2 separate regions of the Homo sapiens genome follow, and region 1 is linked to region 2. The links come from fine-mapping of genetic effects on gene expression. A gene starts in region 2. The other region holds a variant in brackets. All regions are shown on one strand. Distances are from middle to middle.

The links. PIP is the estimated chance that this variant, and not a neighbour inherited with it, causes the effect.
Region 1: its variant is the best candidate, but not a certain one, in a credible set for the expression of SERPINI1 in lung (TOPMed, PIP 0.53).

The regions. Positions count from the first base shown.
Region 1 is chr3:167,585,056-167,596,200 of GRCh38, forward strand. The region is part of intron 7 of WDR49 (WD repeat domain 49); the gene reads right to left. Among named protein-coding and RNA genes, the nearest start is that of WDR49, 63 kb to the right of the region's middle. RefSeq lists an enhancer at 8,674-8,843. The variant A/G (reference allele first, on the strand shown) is at 5,129.
Region 2 is chr3:167,730,318-167,741,462 of GRCh38, forward strand. It overlaps SERPINI1 (serpin family I member 1), which reads left to right and starts at 5,404. Exons shown (of 9, transcript NM_001122752.2): 1 at 5,404-5,506. PDCD10 (programmed cell death 10) reads right to left here and starts at 4,575. Exons shown (of 9, transcript NM_007217.4): 1 at 4,345-4,575; 2 at 3,897-4,033. RefSeq lists a silencer at 4,207-4,336 and an enhancer at 4,387-4,826.

The DNA.
Region 1 (11,145 bases), 150 kb before region 2:
TTTATAATATTGAGTCTAAGAAATGCTTTCCTTAGATAAATGGCATGATCAGATATTGCACAAAAATCAAGAACTATAAATGGCCAATAAATATTTGCAAAAGAAATTCACCCTAGTTTTTGTTCATCAGGTTCACACACAAAAATGAACACATTTTCACTGCTGACAAGAATATGAGAAAACAGACACTTTCATATACCCCTGATGAGCATGCCTATTGGTACAACACTTCTTCACTGTAATAGGCAATATTTATGTAAAGCCTTTGAGATCTAATAGCATAACTTCTAGAAACTTATTACAAAAACATTAACCTAAGAGGTCTTAAAAGGGTGCGTGTGTGTGTGTGTGTGTGTGTGTGTGTGTGTGTGTGTGTGTCATGGCTAACAAAGATAAACAACTTAGAAACAATATCTCCTTTAATCAACAGGTGATTAAGTAGTTAAATTATGGCCATCCATACTAAGAATTGCTGTATAGCCAAAAAATACAGATATATGTATATCTATGTGTCTATCTATAAAGATCTTCAAGAGATACTGTTTAGGAAAAAGCAAATTGTAGAAAAAATATGTGTCATATGATACCATTTACATAAAAACTAATAATAAATACTACCCTGTATTTGTTCACACTCAAAGGATAATATATATAATAACATTAAATAAAGTTGTATTTTGTTATAATGACATATTATTATAATACATTATTATGTATAACATAGTAAGTATATAGCAAAACAATATAAGAAGATACACGTCTAGGGTTGATGATAGTTATTCCTTGGGAAAGAAATGGATTTGAAGGGGAAATGATCATAAGGAATATTTACTTTTTGCACTACATGCTTCCTCATCATTTGCAATTTTTATAGGAGGGCATTAATCCATTTACCGGCGTACTTTAAATGAAAATCCTTTGTTTCTGGATGGATAGATGGAAGTCGGGATGGGGAACAGTGTGGAAAAAAAGAAAAGAAGATAAATGGTAAGACAAAATTCTGATTGTATTGTTCTTACCAACCATAGGTCTACAATATAGAAGCCAGGTTCTGAGAAAAATCAGAACCTCAAACAAAGGATTAAGCCACAAACTGATTTGCTTCTGCTGACCAAATCAGGATTAGTGGCCTCGGGGAGAATAGTTAGGAGTAATGAAAAAGCTGAATTAGGCCCACAGGCTGAATGTCAGTCTCCATCAGAGAGTTTGACATAGGCTTCAAAAATCTTTTTTACTCCCCATGGTGGTTCCTCTCCAAATGACTAAGTTACTTGCCCTCAACAGGGCCTTACCACCAGTGACTGCCATCTCAAGAGAATCAGTTTAGGAGTTCAAAGCAAAATACGATTGAACTCTTTAATCACCACTGGAAAATAGCAATAGAGAAGATTTCCAAAAACGAAATGAAGTTTCAGATCATTTTTGGAGAAAATTTTGTAGATTTAAATTGCTTTGTCTATAGATCTTCTAATTCAGCAATTCATTGACCAAAACATGTTTCAATCAAAAGCTCTTGAAAACATAATGTGTTTTCATTTTTTCTAACTTAACCCCAGTCCTATAAAATATCCAAAAGACTTTGACAGCAATAAAGCAGAGGCTTACCCTGGTGGCAGAATGCATTGTTGTTTGTTGTAAAGACGTAAAGACTGAGATCACGATGCATTTATTAAAGTGAAATAGATTTAGACTAACATGAAAGACAACATGACAAGCTTCATTATAATGTAATGCAAACAAAACAAAAATAGAAAGATAAATTGTTTTTGGAAGAGGCCAGGTAGTCTTAGCATTGATGATAGCTGTACATAATCACCTGTGACTCTAAAGACATTTTTTCACTTGCTTTTACGTTATAAAACCTCTCGGGGAAGTCTTAATGACAAAATATCTGATACTTGTTTCATATTTATATTTGATAAAGATTCTCTTATTTAACTACAATTTATTGGGGACCTGGTATATATATGGTATAATTCCAGAAAGACATTGCCCCTAACCTTATGAATCCTATCATTTAGTTGATAGTTATACTGTTTCATATATTATATTTAACATGTATTTAATACATTAATATTTTCTAGGTCTTGGGAAACACAAAAATAAATTCAACAAATAATCTTTACCTTCAAGCAGTCAGAATCTAATGAAAAATACAATATACATATACAATGCTCCGGTATCCAAATCAGATTGTGTTAAATTCAATAATGGAAATGAAACAAAGTGCTAAAAGATCTCAAAAAGTAGGCCAGCTAAATCTAACTAGGGCATCATAAAAGGTTTCACTCAAGTTTTTTGATACTTTAGACTCAAAGTAATATGTCTTCACTTCAAGCTGTCAACATATAACTATTGAATAAGCACTACAAGGTGCCAAGCACTGTGATAAATACCAAGAATACAAGCTGAAAAGACACTGACCTTTTTTTTCACTTTTTCTTTTTTGAGACAGGGTCCCTCTCTGTCACCCAGGCTGGAGTGCAATGGCATGATCACGCCTCACTGCAGCCTCAGCCTACCAGGCTTAGATGATTGCCCTACCTCAGCCTTTCGGGTAGCTGGGACTACAGGTGTGCGCCACCATGCCCACTAATTTTTGTATTTTTTGTAGAGATGGGTTTTTCCATGTTGCCTAGGCTGATCTTGAACTCCTGGGCTTAAGTGATCCACCCACCTCAGCTTCCCAAAGTGTTGGTATTACAAGCGTGAGGCACCACACGAGCCCTCTTTTTCATTTTTTCTAATTAATTTTTTTATTTTGGTGGGTACAGAGTAGGTGTATATATTTATTGATTACATGAGATATTCTGATACAGATATACATTGCGTAATAATCACATCAGGGTAAATGGAGTAGCTATCACCTCAAGCATTTATCCTGTGTGTTACAAGCAATCCAATTATATTATGTTAGATATTGTAAATGTACAATTAAACTATTTTTTACTATAGTCACTCTGTTGTGCTAGCAAATACTAGGTCCTCTTAATTCTTTCTATTTTTTATACCCATTAACCATACCCACTTCCTCTCCAACCTCCCCCACCACTACCCTTCCCAGCCTCTAATAACCATTCTTCTTCTATCTCCATCAGTTCAATTGTTTTAATTTTTAGCTCCCACAAATAAGTGAGAACACCTAAAGTTTGTCTTTCTCTAACTGGCTTATTTCACTCAGCATAATGACCTCCAGTTCCAACCATGTTATTGCAAGTGACAGGATCTTACTCTTTTTTATGACTGAGTAGTACTCTACTGTTTGTAAATACCACATTTTCTTAATCCATTTATCTTTTGATGGACACTTGGGTTGCTTCCTAATCTTGGCTATTGTTAACAGTGCTGCAACAAACATGGAAGTGCAGATATCTATACGATATACTGATTTCTTTTCTTTGGGGTATATACCTAGTAGTGGGAATGCTGGATCATACGGCAGCTCAATTTTTAGCTCTATTACAGTGGTTTTACCAATTTACATTCCTACCAACAATGCATGAGAATACCCTTTTATCCACATCCTCACCAGCATTTGTTATTGCTTGTCTTTTGGATATAAGCCATTTTTAACTGGGGTAACATTGTAAATTTGATATCTCATTGTAATTTTGATTTGCATTTCTCTGATAATAAATAATATCGAGCACCTTTTCATATGCCTGTTTGCCATTTGTCTTTTTTTGAGAAATGTCTGTTCAGGTATTTAGCCCATTTTTAATCAGATTGTTAGATTTTTTTTCCTAGAATTGTTTGAGCTCCTTGTATATTCTGGTTATTAATCCCTTGTCAGATGGATAGTTTGTAAATATTTTCTCCCGTTCTGTGGGTTGTTTCTTCACTTTATTGATTGTATACTTTGCTGCGCAGAAGCATTTTAACTTAATGTGATCCCACTCATCCATTTTTTCTTCAGTTGCCTGTGCTTGTGGGGTATTGCTCAAGAAATTTTTGCCTAGTCCAATATTCTGGACAGTTTCTCCAATGTTTTTATTTAGCAGATTCATAGTTTGAGGTATTAGATTTAAATCTATAATCAATTTGGATTTAATTTTTGTATATGACAAGATTTAGGTGTCTAATATTATCTTCTGCATATAGATATTCAATTTACCCAGCACCATTTATTGAAGAAACTGTCTTTTCCTCAATATATGTTCTTGGCACCACTGTCTAAAATGAATTCACTGTAGATGTATGGATTTATTTCTGGATTCTCCATTCTATTCCACTGGTCTATGTGTTTGTTTTTATGCCAGTGTCATGACGTTTTGGTTACTGTAGCTCCATAGTATAATTTGAAGTCAGTTAGTGTGATTCCTTCACTTTTATTCTGTTTGCTTAGGATAGCCTTGGCTATTCTGGGTCTTCTGTGATTCCACATAAATTTTAGGATTGTTTTTCCTATTTCTATGAAGAATGTCATTGGTATTTTGATAGGGATTGCATTAAATCTGTATATTGCTTTTGGTAATATGGACATTTTAACAATATTTATTCTTCCAGACCATGAACATGGAATATCTTTCCATTTTTGTAGCTTCTTCAATGTCTTGCATTAATGTTTTATACTTTTCATCATACAAATCCTTCACTCTTTTGGTTAAGTTTATTCCTAGATATTTAATTTTATTTGTAGCTATTCTAAACGGGATTATTTTCTTGATTTTCAGATTGTTGTTGGCATATAGAAATGCAACTGATTATGTTGATTTTGTATCCTGCTACTTTACTGAATTTGCTTACCATTCTAATGTTCTTTGGTGGAGTGGTTTTTCCAAATACAAGATGTTATTATCTGCAAATAAGGATAATGTGCTTTCTTCATTTCCAATTTGGATGCCCTTTTTATATTTCTCTTGTCTGATTATTCTAGCTAGGACTTACAGTACTATATTGAATAACATAGTGGGCATTCTTCAGATCTTAGATGGGAGGCTTTCAACTTTCTCCCATTTCAATACGATATTAGCTGTTGGTCTTTTATATATGGCTTTTATTATATTGAGTTATGTTTCTTCTATATCAAAACTTTTTGAGTTTTTTAAATCATGAAGAGATGTGGAATTTTATCAAATGCTTTTTCAGAATCAATTGGAACGATTATTTAGTTTTTGTCCTTCATTCC[A/G]TTGACATCATGTATCAAATTGATTGATTTGCATATGTGGAACCATTCTTGCAACCTTGGGATAAATCCCACTTGGTCATAATGAATGATTTTTTAAATGTGTTGTTGAATTTGAATTGGTAGTATTTTGTTGAGGATTTTTGCATCAATGTTTATGAGGGCTATCTGCCTGTGGTTTTCTTTTCTGATGTGTCTGTGTCTGGTTTCGGTATCAGGGTAATAATGGTTTTGTAGAATGAGTTTGGAAGTATTCCTTCCTCCTTTACTTTGTGGAGTAGTTTGAGTAGGATTGGTACCAGTTCTTCTTTTAATGTTTGGTAAAATTCAGCAGCAAAGCCCTTGGGTCCTGGGCTTTTTGTTGTTGAGAGGCTTTTAACTATGGCTTCAGTCTCATTACTTGTTATTAGTCTGTTCAGGTTTTGAAAATTTTTATGGTTCAATCTTGGTAGTTCGTATATGTCTAGGAATTTATCCATTTCTTCCAGATTTGTCAAGTTATTAACATATAGTGGCTCATAGTAGCCATTAATAATCATTTGAATTTCAGTGGTGTCAGTAATAATATATCCTTTTTCATCTGTACTTTTATATTTTATTTGGGTTTTCTCTCTTTTTTTTCTGGCTAGAAAGTTAGTCTGGCTAAGTTAGTCTGGCTAAAGTTTTGTCAATTTTGTTTATCTTTTCCAAAACCAACTTTTCATTTCATTGATCTTTGTATTCTTTCTTCATTTCAACTTCATTTATCTCTGCTCTGATCTTTATTTTTTCTTCTACAGATTTGGGGTTTGGTTTGTTTTTTGAATTCTTTAAGAGGCACCATTAGGTTGTTTATTTGAAGTTTTTTCTCTTTTTTGATGACAGCTGTAAACTTCTCTTTTAGTACTCCTCTTACTGTATCCCATAGGTTTTGGTATGCCATGTTTCCATTGTCATTTGTTTCAAGTAATTTTTCAATTTCCTTCTCAGTTTCTTTATTGACACACTGGTCATTCAGGAGAATATTGTTTAATTTCCATGTATTTGTACAATTTTCAAAATTACTCTTGTTATTGATGTCTAGTTTTAGTACCTTGTGATTAGAGAAGATGCTTGATATTATTTAAATTTTTTGAATGTTTTAAGACTTGTTTCATGACCTAACATATGGTCTATCTCTGAGAATGATTCATGTAGTCAGAAAAAGATTTTGTATTCTTCAGCAGTTGGATGAAATGTTCTATAAATATCTATTAGGTCCATTTCTTCTATAGTGCAAAGTCTGATGTTTCTTTGTTGATTTTCTGTCTGGAAGATCTTCTCAATGCTGAAAAACAGGTGTTGATGTCTCCAGCTATTGTTGTATTGTGGTCTATCTCTCTATTTAAGTCTAATAAAATTTGCTTTATATATCTGGGTGCTCCCGTTTTGGGTACACATATATTTACAATTGTTATATTCTCTTGCTGAACTAATTCATTTATCATTATATAATGATTTCTTTGTCCCTTATAGGTTTGGCCTGAAATCTATTTTGTCTGATATGAATATAGGGACTCCTGTTCTTCCATTCTGGCATGGAATATCATTTTTCCTTCCTTTATTTTCAGTCAGTGTGTGTCTTTATAGGTTAAGTGTCTTTCTTGTAGGCAATAGATAATTGGGTCTTGTTTTTTTTTATCCAATCACTCTGCTATGTCGTTTGATTGGAGAGTTTAGTCCATTAACATTCAATGCTATTATTGACAAGTAAAGACTTACTTCTGCCATTTTGTTATTTGTTTTCTGGTTGTCTTCTGGTCTTCTCTTCCTTCTTTCTTTCCTTCCTGTCTTCCTTATAGTAAAGGTGATTGTCACTGGTCATATGATTTAGTTTCTTGCTTTGTATTTTTTGTTCATTCCTTGTATGTTTTTTAGTTTGAGGTTACCATGAGGCTTGAAAATACTATCTTATAATCCGTTATTTTAAACTGATAGCAACTTAACACTATTCGTATAAACAAACCAACAAGCAAAAAGAAAACTAATAAAGACCCTATACCTTAACTTCATGCTCCTTAACTTTTTAACTTTCTGTTGTTTCTATTTATATCTTATTGTACTGTCTATGTCTTGAAAAGTTATTGTAGTTATTTTTGATTAGTTCATCATTTAATCTTTCTACTTCAGATAACAATAGCTTACACAGCACAGTTACAGGGTTATATTCTGTGGTTTTTTTGTGTACTTACTATTACCACTGAGTTTTGTACCGTTAGATGATTTCTTTTTCTTTTTCTTTTTTTTTTTTTTTTGAGATGGAGTCTCACTCTGTCGCCAAGCTGGAGTGCAATAGCACCATCTCAGCTCACTGAAACCTCTACCTCCTGGGTTCAAGAGATTCTCCTGCCTCAGCTTCCTGAGTAGCTGGGACTACAGGTGCACACCACCACGCCCAGCTAATTTTTGTATTTTTAGTAGAGATGGGGTTTCACCATGTTGGGCAGGACGGTCTCCATCTTTTGCCCTCACGATCCTCCCACGTCAGTCTCCCAAAGTGCTGGGATTACAGGCATGAGCGACTGCTCCTAGCCAGATGATTTCTTATTGCTAATTAACATTCCTTTCTTTCAGATTGAAGAACTCCCTCTAGCACTTCTTGTAGGAAGGTCTGGTATTGATGAAATCCTTCAGCTTTTGTTTGTCTGGTAAGGTCTTTATTTCTCCATGTTTGAAGGATATTTTTGCAAGATATAGTTATTTTCCTTCAGAACTTTAAATATGCTATTCTCTCCTGGCCTGTAAGATTTCCCTGAAAATTTTGCTGCCAGACATATTGAAGCTCTATTTTATGTTATTTGTTTCTTTTCTCTTACTGCCCTTAGGATTCTTTCTTTATCCTTGACCTTTGGGAGTTTGATTATTAAATGTCTCAAGTTAGTATTCTTTGGGTGAAATCAGCTTGGTGTTCTATAGCCTTCTTGTATTTGGACATTGATATGTTTCGCTAGGTTTAGGAAGTTCTCTGTTATTATCCCTTTGAATAAACTTTCTACCTTGTTTCTCTCTCAACTTCCTCTTTAAGTCCAATAACTCTTAGATTTGCCTTGTTGAGACTGTTTTCTAGATCTTGAAGGTGTGCTTCATTCATTTTCATTCTTTTTTCTTTTGCCTCCTCTGACTGCATTTCTAAATATCCTGTCTTCAAGCTCACTAATTCCTTCTTCTGCTTGATTGATTCTGCTATTAAAACACTGACACATTCTTCAGTTTGTCAATTCCATTTTTCAACTTTAGAATTTCTGCTTGATTTTTTTAACAATGTTAATGTCTTTGTTAAATTTATCTGATAGAATTCTGAATTCCTTCTCTGTGTTATCTTGAATATCTTTGAGTTTTCTCAACACAGCTATTTTGAATTCTCCATCTGAATGGTCACATATCTCTGTTTCTCCAGGATGTGTTATTGTGCCTTATTTAGTTCATTTAGTGAGGTCATGTTTTCCTGGATGGTGTTGGTGTTAGTAGCTGTTCTTTGGTGTCTGGGCATTGAAGAGTTAGGTGTTTATTGTAGTCTTCACTGTCTTGGCTTATTGGTAGCTATCTGATATGGTTGGCTCTGTGTTCCCACCCAAATCTCATCTCAAATTGTAATCCCCATGTGCTGAGGGAAGGACCTAGTTGTAGGTGACTGGATCATGGGGGAGGTTCCCCCATGCTGTTCTCATGATAGTGAGGGAATTGTCACAAGATCTGATGGTTTAAAAGTGTGCGGTGGTTCCCCTCTCTCGTTCTGCCTCTCCTGCTACCATGTAAGATGTGCCTTGCTTCCCCTTCACCTTCTTCCATGATTTTAGTTTCCTGAAGTCTCCCCAGCCATGAGCAACTATGAGCCAATGAAACCTCTTTCCTTTATAAGTTACCCAGTCTCAGGTACTTCCTTATAGCCATGTGAGAACAAACTAATACAGAAAATTGGCACTGGGAAAGTGGAGTGCTGCTATAAAGATACCTGGAAATGTGGAAGCAACATTGGAACTGGGTAACGGGCAAAAGTTGGAAAAGTTTGAAGGGCTCATAAGAAGACAGGAGAATGTGGAAACATTTGGGACTTCTTAGAGACTTGTCAAATTGTTTTGACCAAAATGTTCATAGTGATATGGGCAATGAAGTTCATGCTGAGGTGGTCTCAGATGGAGATGAGGACCTTACTGGGAACCGGAGCAAAGGTCAAACTTCCTATTCTTTACCAAAGACACTGGTGGCATTTTGCCCCTGCCCTAGATACCTGTAGAAATTTGAACTTGAGAGAGATGATTTAGGGTATCTGGCAGAAGACATTTCAAAGCAGTAAAGCATTCAAGATGTGACCTGGCTTTTTCTGAAAGCATACAGTCATATTCATTCCAAAGAGATAGTCTGAAGTTGGAAATTATGTTTAAAGGGAAGCAGAACATAAAAGTTTGGAAAATTTGCAACCTAATCATGTGGTAGAAAAGCAAAACCCGGCCTTTGACAAAATTCAACAACCCTTCATGCTAAAAACTCTCAATAAAGTAGGTATTGATGGGACATATCTCAAAATAATAAGAGCTATCTATGACAAACCCACAGCCAATATCATACTGAATGGGCAAAAACTGGAAGCATTCCCTTTGAAAACTGGCACAAGACAGGGATGCCCTCTCTCACCACTCCTATTCAACATAGTGTTGGAAGTTCTGGCCAGGGCAATTAGGCAGGAGAAGGAAATAAAGGGTATTCAATTAGGAAAAGAGGAAGTCAAATTGTCCCTCTTTGCAGACGACATGATTGTATATCTAGAAAACCCCATTGTCTCAGCCCAAAATCTCCTTAAGCTGATAAGCAACTTCAGCAAAGTCTCAGGATACAAAATCAATGTACAAAAATCACAAGCATTCTTATACACCAACAACAGACAAACAGAGAGCCAAATCATGAGTGAACTCCCATTCACAATTGCTTCAAAGAGAATAAAATACTTAGGAATCTAACTTACAAGGGATGTGAAGGACCTCTTCAAGGAGAACTACAAACCACTGCTCAACAAAATAAAAGAGGATACAAACAAATGGAAGAATATTCCACGCTCATGGGTAGGAAGAATCAATATCGTGAAAATGGCCATACTGCCCAAGATAATTTACAGATTCAATGCCATCCCCATCAAGCTACCAATGACTTTCCTCACAGAATTGGAAAAAACTACTTTAAAGTTCATATGGAACCAAAAAAGAGCCCGCATTGCCAAGTCAGTCCTAAGCCAAAAGAACAAATCTGGAGGCATCACACTACCTGACTTCAAACTATACTACAAGGCTACAGTAACCAAAACAACATGGTACTGGTACCAAAACAGAGATATAGATCAATGGAACAGAACAAAGCCCTCAGAAATAACATTGCATATCTACAACTATCTGATCTTTGACAAACCTGAGAAAAACAAGCAATGGGGAAAGGATTCCCTATTTAATAAATGGTGCTGGGGAAATTGGCTAGCCATATGTAGAAAGCTGAAACTGGATCCCTTCCTTACACCTTATACAAAAATCAATTCAAGATGGATTAAAGACTTAAACGTCAGACCTAAAACCATAAAAACCCTAGAAGAAAACCTAGGCATTACCATTCAGGACATAGGCATGGGCAAGGACTTCATGTCTAAAACACCAAAAGCAATGGCAACAAAAGCCAAGATTGACAAATGGGATCTAATTAAACTAAAGAGCTTCTGCACAGCAAAAGAAACTACCATCAGAGTGAACAGGCAACCTACAAAATGGGAGAAAATTTTCGCAACCTACTCATCTGACAAAGGGCTAATATCCAGAATCTACAATGAACTCAAACAAATTTACAAGAAAAAAACAAACAACCCCATCAAAAAGTGGGCGAAGGACATGAACAGACACTTCTCAAAAGAAGACATTTATGCAGCCAAAAAACACATGAAAAAATGCTCACCATCACTGGCCATCAGAGAAATGCAAATCAAAACCACAGTGAGATACCATCTCACACCAGTTAGAATGGCAATC
Region 2 (11,145 bases):
TTTTACAGTTTATATTATGGAAAAAATTACTTATCATGTAAGTGGCTTAAAATTCTTAGTAACACCTATCATAATGATATTAATTATCCAACAACATATAAAAAGCAGTATTTCAGTTTTATCCTCCACATACTGGTTATGCTAGGTAAATATGAAAATTTTATCCAAGATTCAAGTAACATCAACACTGACTTTTTAAAAAGTAAGTTTAGGATTTAGCAAAGACTTGTTTTTAATAATAAAATGGATAGTATTACCAAATTTTAAAGCCAAATTATCAGCAATCTCTTTTTGACAAGATCTTGTGGAAGAGTAAACTGGTAAATCCATGAAGGCATACAAGGCTACAGAAACTCAGGGCTGTTGACCTTACTCTATGCCATACCGTGGTACTACAAATGACTGCAGAACTTGTTTCCAAGACCAAAACCTAACACAATTTATCCCTAAAATTCAGTTTGTATGTTTTAAAAATAATCTTTTTATGCTTAAGTCTCCAGCTATAAAGCAAATAAGATTAGAAAAGTATTAGAAAAATTTTCAGGAAACCCAAAATATAAGTTCCTTTGAAACAAAAACTACTCAATTTTACAAAGCCACCTTGTCTAAATCAAGTGATATTAAAGGTATAATTCATAGGAAGATAGCAAGGTTAAAAAGCAAGAAACAAAACAAAAAAGCAAAGAAAAAGAAAAAATTATGGATTCTAGAATACGGAGATAGATCCAGATTCTAACCATGGTTCCAGTACCAACGTTCTGGAAACTCTAGCAATTTAATTAAACTTTTTTTAGTTTAATAAGTAAATTTACTTATTTTCTTGATGTCTTCAGCTATAAAACAGTATTAATACTACTACCTAGAGGAAATAAAGGTTTTTAGGGCAAAACGAGACAACATTAGGGAAGAAGAGTCCATTAGAAGTTTCTTCCATGTCTATATTTTGTTATAATGAATATCGCTTGCAAAAAGCAGGACAGTGATAAGTCTCTAAAATGCTGTGTTACACAGCAATTCTGCGGCAAATGAAAGTGATTCCTTTATCATTTCCACTTAGAAAATTAATCCTGATTTCAGAGACCTCCAAAAAGAACAAACATTTTTCCACAATTTATATTAAAATTCTGTCAATGACTCCTTTACATATAACCTAAATTGCCTAAGCATTATGGCTCATTTGAAAGTTCTTATATACTTCAATCCAGAAAGCATATCCGCTTTATTCATTTCTCTATTTCTGTCCCCAGAGAAGTGCTGGAAGCACTGTGCATGAATACACTCCTTCATTCATTCAGCAAATATTTACTGAACCCTTACAATGTGCCAGGTACTGCGTAAGTAGTGGGGTAAAACATGACAAATGAGAGGGCCCTGCTCAGGGAGCTTATAGTCCAGTGAGGAGACAGTATTTGTCAAATAAATACAGAAATAATTAAGTTTCTATTATGATGATGCCACAAAGGAGTACAGAGTATGGTGAATACATGGCGGAAACCTATTCTGATTTTGGGAAGGCGGGCAAGGCTCCCCTGACGAACGATATTTAAATTGAGACGTGAAAACTGACTACCAGGTGGCCACATTTAGGTAGGCGTGAGGGGAACAGTCCAAGGAGTGAGACGGAATATGTAAAGGCCACCAAGTCAGGAAGCAGCTTATGTATGTAGTAACTGAAAGGCATGGTAAATGAGAAAGGCTGGAGATAAGGACGGAGAGCTGGATAGGAGAAGAGATAAATTTTTAGTGTTAAACAGAGTAAGAAGGTAATAGTATTTGAATATTTAAGTCACGTTAAGTCTTCTTCTCATGTAAATAATCTAAGGGAACTAAGTCTTTACTCCAAAATATTAAAGATCTGTAGTCAGAAGATCTCGATTTTGTCTTACTCCCACCAGTTACAAGTCACTTAACCAACTTGAGCCTCTTCATTCTCTTTGTAAATATTATCTTACCTACTCAGACTACAATAATAAACAGCCCCTATTCTTACAGACCTTACATCCTTAAGAGAAACAGACAGATGTATAATATACGGAAGACATCCCAAGTCCTCTAAGAAATAATGTCCAAAAGCTGACATAAGGCTCCTGCAAAGTTCAAAATGAGAAGAAATGCAGACACTGGTGAGCTGCAAACCACGTGTACACATAACTCTGTGAACTCCTAATTATCCAACGTGCAGAGATCTAAAGTGACAACAGTACCGCAGCATGTGACTGAAAGATGATAACAACAATACAAACATTAATCCACCATCCGAATAGAAGAAATATCAAAACTATAATTGGCCTCAGAGATAAAGAGTAGTGGCAGAAATGAACCAAGAACAAAATCTAAAACACACTGAACAAATGCATTACATTAACTAATTTCCAAAATTTCCTCATAGTTCAAAAGCTCTTTCCATAATGACAGAGTTACATGCCAAAGGTTAGAACTTATTTCATACCTCCTTCAACAAAAGGCAAATACCTACATTGTCATCTAGAAAACAGATTAATATTCTTGCTTTACCATCACTGACTCATGTTCAGTTTACGGTCTACTTACATCACTGCACCTTTCTTAATCCAGCACAAAGTCAGTTATCACCACATAATTTTCCATTTGTTTAACTGGGTCTTCCTTGTCTGTGTACTACATTACTTATGGTACATTATTCCTGATTTTACTTCATTCTATAGTATCATACTTTTTCTATTTTAAAAATCGTATTAATTTCCAGACCATCTTAATTTCAACCATCAGGGAAGATAATACCTCTGTTCCGAAAAAATGTTTTTCCATTAAAAAGTGAAGCACATTGTTGATAATATAGTAACTGCAGAGTACATTCAAAATTCAGCATAGTCTGATGATCAACTTATATATAAAACAGTAAGCTATGATTTATTACATGTTAAGAGTAAGCCATGATTTATTACATGCTAACCTGTATGGATATAAAGTTATCACAAATAAATTCTGCCATCAATGAACATACTCTAACAATTCTATTAAAAACTTATCCAATAATAATAGTCATGAGCTATAACTGGTCATAATCATTATAGAGGATAAGACTTGCATAAAGGCACTACTTTCTGCAAGATATGAACTATACGTGTACTGTTTTTTCATTCTTCAATGTAAAGTAAGAATGAATTGAAAGTCACAGTTGATGCTAAGAAAAATAAAAATATGCAAGAGCCCAATTTTATTATTTGCAGACACACACACAAATACAGCCCAGAGTCAAGAAAATGGGGGAAAAGTAAAGTCTCAAAAAAGACGATGTTACCTCCAAGAAATGCAAAATACCTTCTTTTCTAGTAATGGGCACACTAAACTCTCCTAACGCTACATTATTTGAAAAAAGTGTAGTTTTGTGAAAGAATTCCAATCCCACTATTATCAGTTTTACAAAATGAGAGTAAAAACAGTCCTAAGGTAGAAAAAGAAAAGAATATTCTTCTAAGGATGGGATATATTGTTTAACTGTTGTTCTCCCATCCTATTACCTACCCGTAAAAATGAACTGTGAGAGTAGAGTCTATCATTTAATACACCCCTAAAAAAAGGGGAAAAATCTGTAAAAGTTGAAACTGGCCATTTTTATTTTTTCCAAAAGGATCTTTCCTTTATTGAGGAATTTCACTCCGGTTCAAGAAACAACTTTTTATCTCACAATGGCTTCTTAGATATACTATATAAAATACATTTACTTTGTAACTTCCTCCACCCTTTTCAAAAAGCACAACCAACGTCCCTACTCTAAAGCTGGACTCGAACCGAACTAGATTCAGAAAGTCTGTCCCTACGTGTGTGACCTTGGGCACGTCATATAATCCCTCGGTTTCCTCATCAGCATCCCAAAATGAAAGCGCTCTGAAAGCAGTAAAGGAGTAAAAACATACCTTAGGTATGACACCTAAGAGGGTCAAGTCTTTCTGTTTAAGGCAAAATTATCTCCTTAGAGGGCCACATCATTAAACTGGAACTGAATCCGTAGACCCCAACATTTGTCTCTTCCTTCTTCCAGTGCTCCTCTTCCCTCAAAGGGCATAACCCGAGTCACCCCCAAGAGCCGACTCCCAAGCACCCTTTCCTTCCTCCTCCCTTTTCTCTTACTTACAAAGCAGGGGGAAAACAGCAGCCTCACCTCTCGGTCCGAAGCCACACCTTCAAAGGACCCCACCCCAGGCACATCCGCCCTGTCCCCTCTCCCGGGGCACCAGGGGCCAACCTCGCCCTTCCCCTCCCGCCCCCACCTAGAGGAGACTTCCTGGAGGCGTTCGGGCCCAAGCCGGCAGGCGGCATTTACAAACCCGCTTTACGCCACTCGCGTAGGGTAACCTCGCTTACGCCCGTAGGGCCCCGCTCTCAGCCCCGTCCGCTCCGCCTGCCAGAACCAAGCCCAAGTGCCTCAGCCATGGCCCCTGCGTGACCCTAGACCTCTTCTGCTCGGTGCAGAGCTACGGGGACTGGGACAGAACAGCTACACCTTACCAGCAACTGAGGCACTGACTTCACTTCCCACCTTGCAGCCCTCTTCAACTCCCGGATCAATTCACTCCGGCGACGCCGGAAGGACCCAAGAGGAACCAGGCGTTGTCCGGAATCCTGCCCAGCCGGAGTCGTGCAGAGGCTTATGGGGACTCGTAGTCCCGCTCGCCGGCGTTGTCCGCAATTCCTGCAATCGGAAGACTACACTTCCCGGCAGGCCATGCGGGGGATCCTGAGGCGATGGGTGGTGACACTTCTAGCCAATAGTAGGAGAATTCCCTGCCTTTGCGGGAGGAGGTGAGATGAAGAGAGATGGTGCACGGAAAGGAGAGGAAGGGCGGGGCAAGCCCTCACCTGCGCCAATCAGGGTGCGGAGTAGGCCCCGCAGGCGCCTCACCCATTGAGGGGGCGGGCTGACAGAGCAGAGGAAGGAAGGGGGTGAGGGGCCTGTGGTGGGGATCCTGGGGCTGTCGGGCTGAGTATGCCGTGTGGGTGGAGAGGAAGCCTCGGGGAAATCGCCCAGGTGAAGGGAGGGCTTGGTGTGGGGACTTGCACTGGGCAGAGGGGCAGCTTCCCTGAGAGCAGCTAAGCCCCAGGCACACCGGGCATCCGGACACACAGGTCGGGGAAGGATAGGCTGAGCCGGGGCTCCCAGCAGAGACGCCTGGGTGGGGCAGGAGGCCGCTCCAGGTGTGAGCCACAGAGGAGGGGAGAGGGACCCCCACGGGAGTGGAAGTGGCAGAGCAGCTGCAGAAGTGCAGGGAGCGGAAAGGTACCAGGGCAGCTGCTTTCCGCTGCCTCCGGTCCGGGCAGCTGCAGAAACAGCAGGGGGAGGAGCAACAGCTGCCAAATTCGCCAACTAGAGGAGGGAGAGGCGGAGCTTGGGTCCCTGTAGAAGCCAGAGGCGCAGTCTGGACTGTAGTTTCCCGGGAGAGACGAAAGCAGGAACGAGAGCGGAGCGGAGCACAGTCCGCCGAGCACAAGCTCCAGCATCCCGTCAGGGGTTGCAGGTGTGTGGGAGGTAAGCGTGGGTCCTTCTTCGGGGCGTCTGCACTGCCCTGGAGAAAACGTCTTCCAATAGGAATTACATCAAGACACAGCTAAAAGAGTCCGCGTTGGGTTAGGAAACCGGTGCAAAACCTCTCGGGTGAAAGATTTACATTTTTCGACTTTAAGGGCAAAAAAGCAAAAGGAAGCTTGACTCTGGGTATAAAGGGCGTGGTTAGTGTTTTTGGTTTGAGTTGCACCAGTAAAACTGTTCTGGGAGATCTGAAGATTGAGAAAAATCCTGCTAATTGAGGACGAGGTGGATGTTATCTGGTGGATGTTATAGGTGCGTAGCCTATAAAAAGCAAAAATTTTGCTATTGATATAGAATAACTTCTGAACTATTTCACTAGGAAAATAACTTTGCATTCTTCTTCAGTGTCTACCCTTTACGTTGGTTTATCAGATTGTCCTGCTACCGACCTGTTATCCAGGGTGGTTATTTTGCAGTTTCCTAGAATTGCAAGAAATCCGTATTAAAGAAGCAAGTGCAGGCAGGAATAGTCAGGATAGGATGGGCTCTGACTTAATCTATCAAAAGTATAACTTTTGCCAGCAATAATGTAAAAATGAATTTTAATGAATGGATAGTTAGCTTTCTTCCCAGTGGCTCTGGAATATTGGAACAAAGACCTGGATTCAGCCTACAATGGAAACATATGGTGTACCTCACTGCTGCTCGTTAGTTTCTCATTTGTGTCCGATAATATGTGTACATTTTAAAAACGAGTACATGGAAAGCTGTGTGGGAATCTTTTCTCTGGGTAGAGAGTATGTGCTGAAGGACTACCCTTAATATGTGTTATGATAGTGGGTTCAGTTTAAAACACATGTAGTGTCATAAAATAATAGTTTATTCTCGGTATTAAACTATATGTGCATTCAAAGCAACGTTAATTGTAATACCTATGGATGGAAATAAGTTGTAATGCTGGGTAAAGATGAAAGTCTCACCTACCTTTGTGTAATTATGACAAAATTACAGCCTTTTATTTTTAGAGAAGTAGTAAGAAGCTATTTTCCTAGTTCATTTTCATTTTGTTACAGAGGTTCCCAGATTACATGGCTTTTAATCATAGTAGCATATTGCAGCAAATTTTGCTCTGAAATGCTTTCATTGTGACAGTTGCATATTTCAGAGTCTGTCTCAATACTTTATGTTTTTTTTTAATAACCAGGGTCAATAAAATGGAGTAATTGTCTTGTTTTCTCCTATTTCTATGCTTTCCTGAGTTCTCGGGATTTTAAATTTTATTTTTGTAATGCATCCCAAATTTCTTTTTGAAAAGAAATGGCTCAAATGAATTCTCTTCCCAGATTAAAGTTCAGTCCTACTGAGTGCTACTACCGATAAGCCTAAGTGACTTTTCAGTGTGTATACTCTTCCCTCCCACACTCTCACATACCATAGAAATATATAGACAGATAGATCATAGAAAAACAGCTGCTTTTTAATTACCCCTAAGCAAATCAGCTAAGTATCAAAAACAGCAAAGAGCTTAGAAGAAAGAAAAAGCAACAGTAGCTGCTAAACTTAACCACTATAAGGATCAGGTTTTATCTTTGCTACAGCACTGGAGAATCTATTAATTCACATAGCTGATATGGCCCTGTGAAAATGATTTTGGGGGTAAAAAAAAAAGTGGGTATTAGGGTGACACATGGAAAAGACTGTGTTTGCCCTTGTTATTTGTGATTAAGTGGATTGTCTTGAATCAGTCTTAGATTCTTTCTCAGACCCTACTACTAATTCATTTTGTAAAACTGAATAATTGCTGTCGCTGGGTTATTTCCCCTATGTAATAATTATAATACTACCAATGAAATTCTTTCCGAGCCTTTATTAAAAGATCTGTTTGAAAGAGTTTTATTGGGAAACAGTTAATAAGCAAGCAAATGGATAGAAGATAAATATCTAAACAGTTGAAATTAAGATATACTTTGAATCTCAGCTCTTTATAGGTCTTCTGCTCTGAGACACGGTAAAGGATAGAATCTGATTAGGAATGAATGAGTTTGTGGTATTAAAGTACTGATTTTTTTCACCTGTTTCCAAGATTTGGATCCTTTTTACTGTGTCAGTAAAAGAGATTGGGTTTCAATATCATTTGAAAAAAGACCATGTTTTTATATGAGAGAATATCATTGGAAATATATGGCATTTATTTTTTACCTTGCACTCTTGATTCATGTTAGTTAATATTCACATTCAATCTCAGGTAATCTGAAGATTTTTCTTGATTGGTGTTGAAAACGTTCGTTATATGGCAGTTTATAATTCTGTGTAAAATGCTACCCATGTTATAAGCATATTACTTATTTTGCTCTTTAATTTTACTATTTGTGTATGGCTATCAGTGAATATGTATGATGAGAAAGGAAAAGCAACAGAGTGCAGAATGTCTCTCTTGAATGGAAATTGCTCTGGGGATGATTGTTCTTTAGCCAAAAACCTTGGTTAATTTCAAATTACCATATCCTTTGGTCTTTTCTTTAGAGTTCTGATTCTAAGCCTTTTGAGTAAAAATAAGTTAGCATGGATTTCTTTTTAACAGGAAGATTCACTGATGCATGCAGCACAAAAGAGCAAGACTTAAAGGTTCAAGATCAAATGGTTTTGGTAAAGAAGGATACAGGGGAATAGATATAAAGAAAACTACTTGAGAAACACACCTTTAGCAAAAGAGAAAAAAGATTTTATATTTTTTGTTAAATTCCTATAATCCATGATTCCATGACCTTTTCTCCCCCAGTCATTAATTTGTAGAGGCCTGTATTCATACTGGGATACATTACTTTTCTAAGTAAAATTGAATATTCAAAATCCAATGAATACCAGTCTGATTCCAGTTAAAATGGCAATTTTTACTGGAATAAATTTTGGATGATTAACCTTCCTTTTTTATGCTTTTATAACCCATAAATATTCAAAATCTAATGAATACCAGTCTGATTCCAGTCAATTGCCATTTTAACTGGAATCAAACTGGTATTCATTAGATTTTGAATATTCATGGATTATTAACCATAAAAATCCTACCTGTATACACTAACTTCTAAGTGAAACATTATTTGGACAAAATATCAAAAAGTAAATACCTAAACTGATGTTTTGCCCCTTTAAAATAATAAAGGTACTTGAACCAGACACTAAGATGAGCAAGAGCCCATTTATTTAATTAAGCAAATTCCAAAGGTTAAACACTGCTTTTGGGATCAGAATTAACGTACACAAATAAGGGAGAGATTTTTTTGTTGTTTCTTTTTTTTTTTTTTTTTTAAATCTTAAACCTGTAAGAATTTAGTCTTTAAAATTTGGAAGGTGTGTTTTAAGTAACTACGTTATTAACTCTTAGAGACCATGTACTTCTTTTCTATCTCCTGTTAGTCCTGAGCACTTTATGTCATATTCAGCATAAAGAAATTGAGTAACCAGTTACTGAATTAGAACCATTGGACATTGGACAATACTTCTGTAATGCACACATTGAGACAGTTTGCGCTTTGATAGACAGAGTCAGCTGACCTCACAGAATGATTGCTTACACATTAGTCCTTCTGAGAATGTCTTTATGCTAGTTTGCCTTTGCAAAAGTGTTGATTGAGCACAATTGGATTCACACTGTGTGCGCTGCAAATACATTACAGATTTGAGTGCCAGCATTTCTAAATTCATCTCAGAGATAGGATATATAGGCGAGGGTAAAGGAGTCTGCAACTGGTGGCACTTAAGGTCTTAATTTCACAGACAGAAAAACCCAGGGCTCAACCACCATTTAACCTCAAGGCCCTGGAGTTATACCTTTGTTGAAGCTTATCTGTAGAAACCATATTTCATTCTATAAAAACTGAATTTGCTCTTCTGTTTTTCTAATTATTTCTTCCAAAAAAAAAATAGACTGATTTTGTTTAAGCATGTGTGGAGTTGGTCATTAGTTGTTTTTTGCATTTGACCTAGAAACAAATTAATCTGATTGGTGTTAGAATTAAGAATCTAATGTAATTTTTACTTCATTATGATAAGACCTATACAATTCTAGTTAATTGTATATAGTTTTTTAGTAGTAAAATTAATTGTAGCACATATTTAACTATCTTCTGTTTACTTTTACCTTCATGTTGATTTATATAAATTGGCTTGCTTAGAACTGATAATTAACCTGCCTTTTTCTTTTTTTTTTTGCCGCCTTTTTTTTTTTCTGAGACAGGGTCTGACTCTGTCGCCCAGGCTGGAATGCAGTGACCTGATCATAGTTCACTGTAACCTTGAACTCCTGGGCTCAAGCACTCCTCACACCGCAGACTCCCCAGTAGCTAAGACTACAGGCAAGAACCACCATGCTCAGCTAATTTTAACTTTTTATAGAGATAAGGGTCTCACTGTGTTGCCCAGGTTGGTCCAAACTCCTGACCTCAAACAATTCTCTCACCTTGGTCTCCCAAAGAATTGGGATTACAGGTGTGAACCACCATGCCTTGCTGATATTATTCTTAATGATTAGCACTGTGCCTTGTGTAGAGTAAACTTAGTTCATACTATCTTTCTCACCAGATACTTAGTATCTTTAGAGCTAACTCTGAGTTTCATTGACGTTTGTATTCATTTTGAGAATCCTTTTACATAGTTCATACTTGGTAAGTAGTAACAATTTGGATAACTATTTGGTAATCTATAATGAAACATCATTTTGCAAACAAATACAACTAGAAAAATGACTTTTTCTTAGACATCTGTGTTAGTACCAAATTCAGCCCTCTGCCAACAACGGTTGCTTATATTACAGCTAAATATAAATATTGCTATCTTGTTGGATTTCTAAATGAGTAGAACAAATTTTGTTATTAACTGCAAACTTGCGCGCGCGCTTGTGTGCGTGTGTGTGTGCGTGCATGGGCGCATGCTTCAGACATGAATTTATTCATTAGATGCTATTTGGGGTTTATGTGGTCCTTTTCTCTCCTTGCCTCTAGAACTCTGCTGATTTAAAGATGTGCTTTTATGTAATACCTCCCCTCCCCTACACGATTTCCATTACTTTTTTCTTAACAAATAGAGAAAAATAAATAGATGAATGTAATATGAGGCCTTAACTAAAGTTTAACTGGCTGTAAATGTTCCATTTTCAGTGAAAAGGCTGCATTGAGAGACCTTAGTAAAGCTTACATTGTACCTGAATTATACAGGTATTTGTCATCTCTGAGCCATCATGAAGAACGAATGAGTTTTGAGACTTGGCATTGACAGTGCTCAGTGTTGGTCTTCTGTGTATAGCTTGGTGGTGGAAGCTTACAGGGTACCTTCAGTTTCAGCCACTGCTTTGAGGCCCCCTTCTGGTTCTGCCTGGGAAAGGAGACTTCTGAGCTCCTCACAGCTCTTAATGTGGGAAGGAAAACAGATGAAATGTTTTTCATTTAATAACCTTATTTTGTTAAACTGTATTGTTTTTCCCAGGTATATCTCACACCAGGATTCCCAGTAAGAGTAGCTCAAATGTCACACAGTGATTTCTATAGCACAGCCAGGCAATTCAATGAGTACCTATCAACTTGTAGTCCACTCCTAGCATCTTGGCTTTTCTTGAACAGACCCCAAAGAGCCCACTAAAACATTTC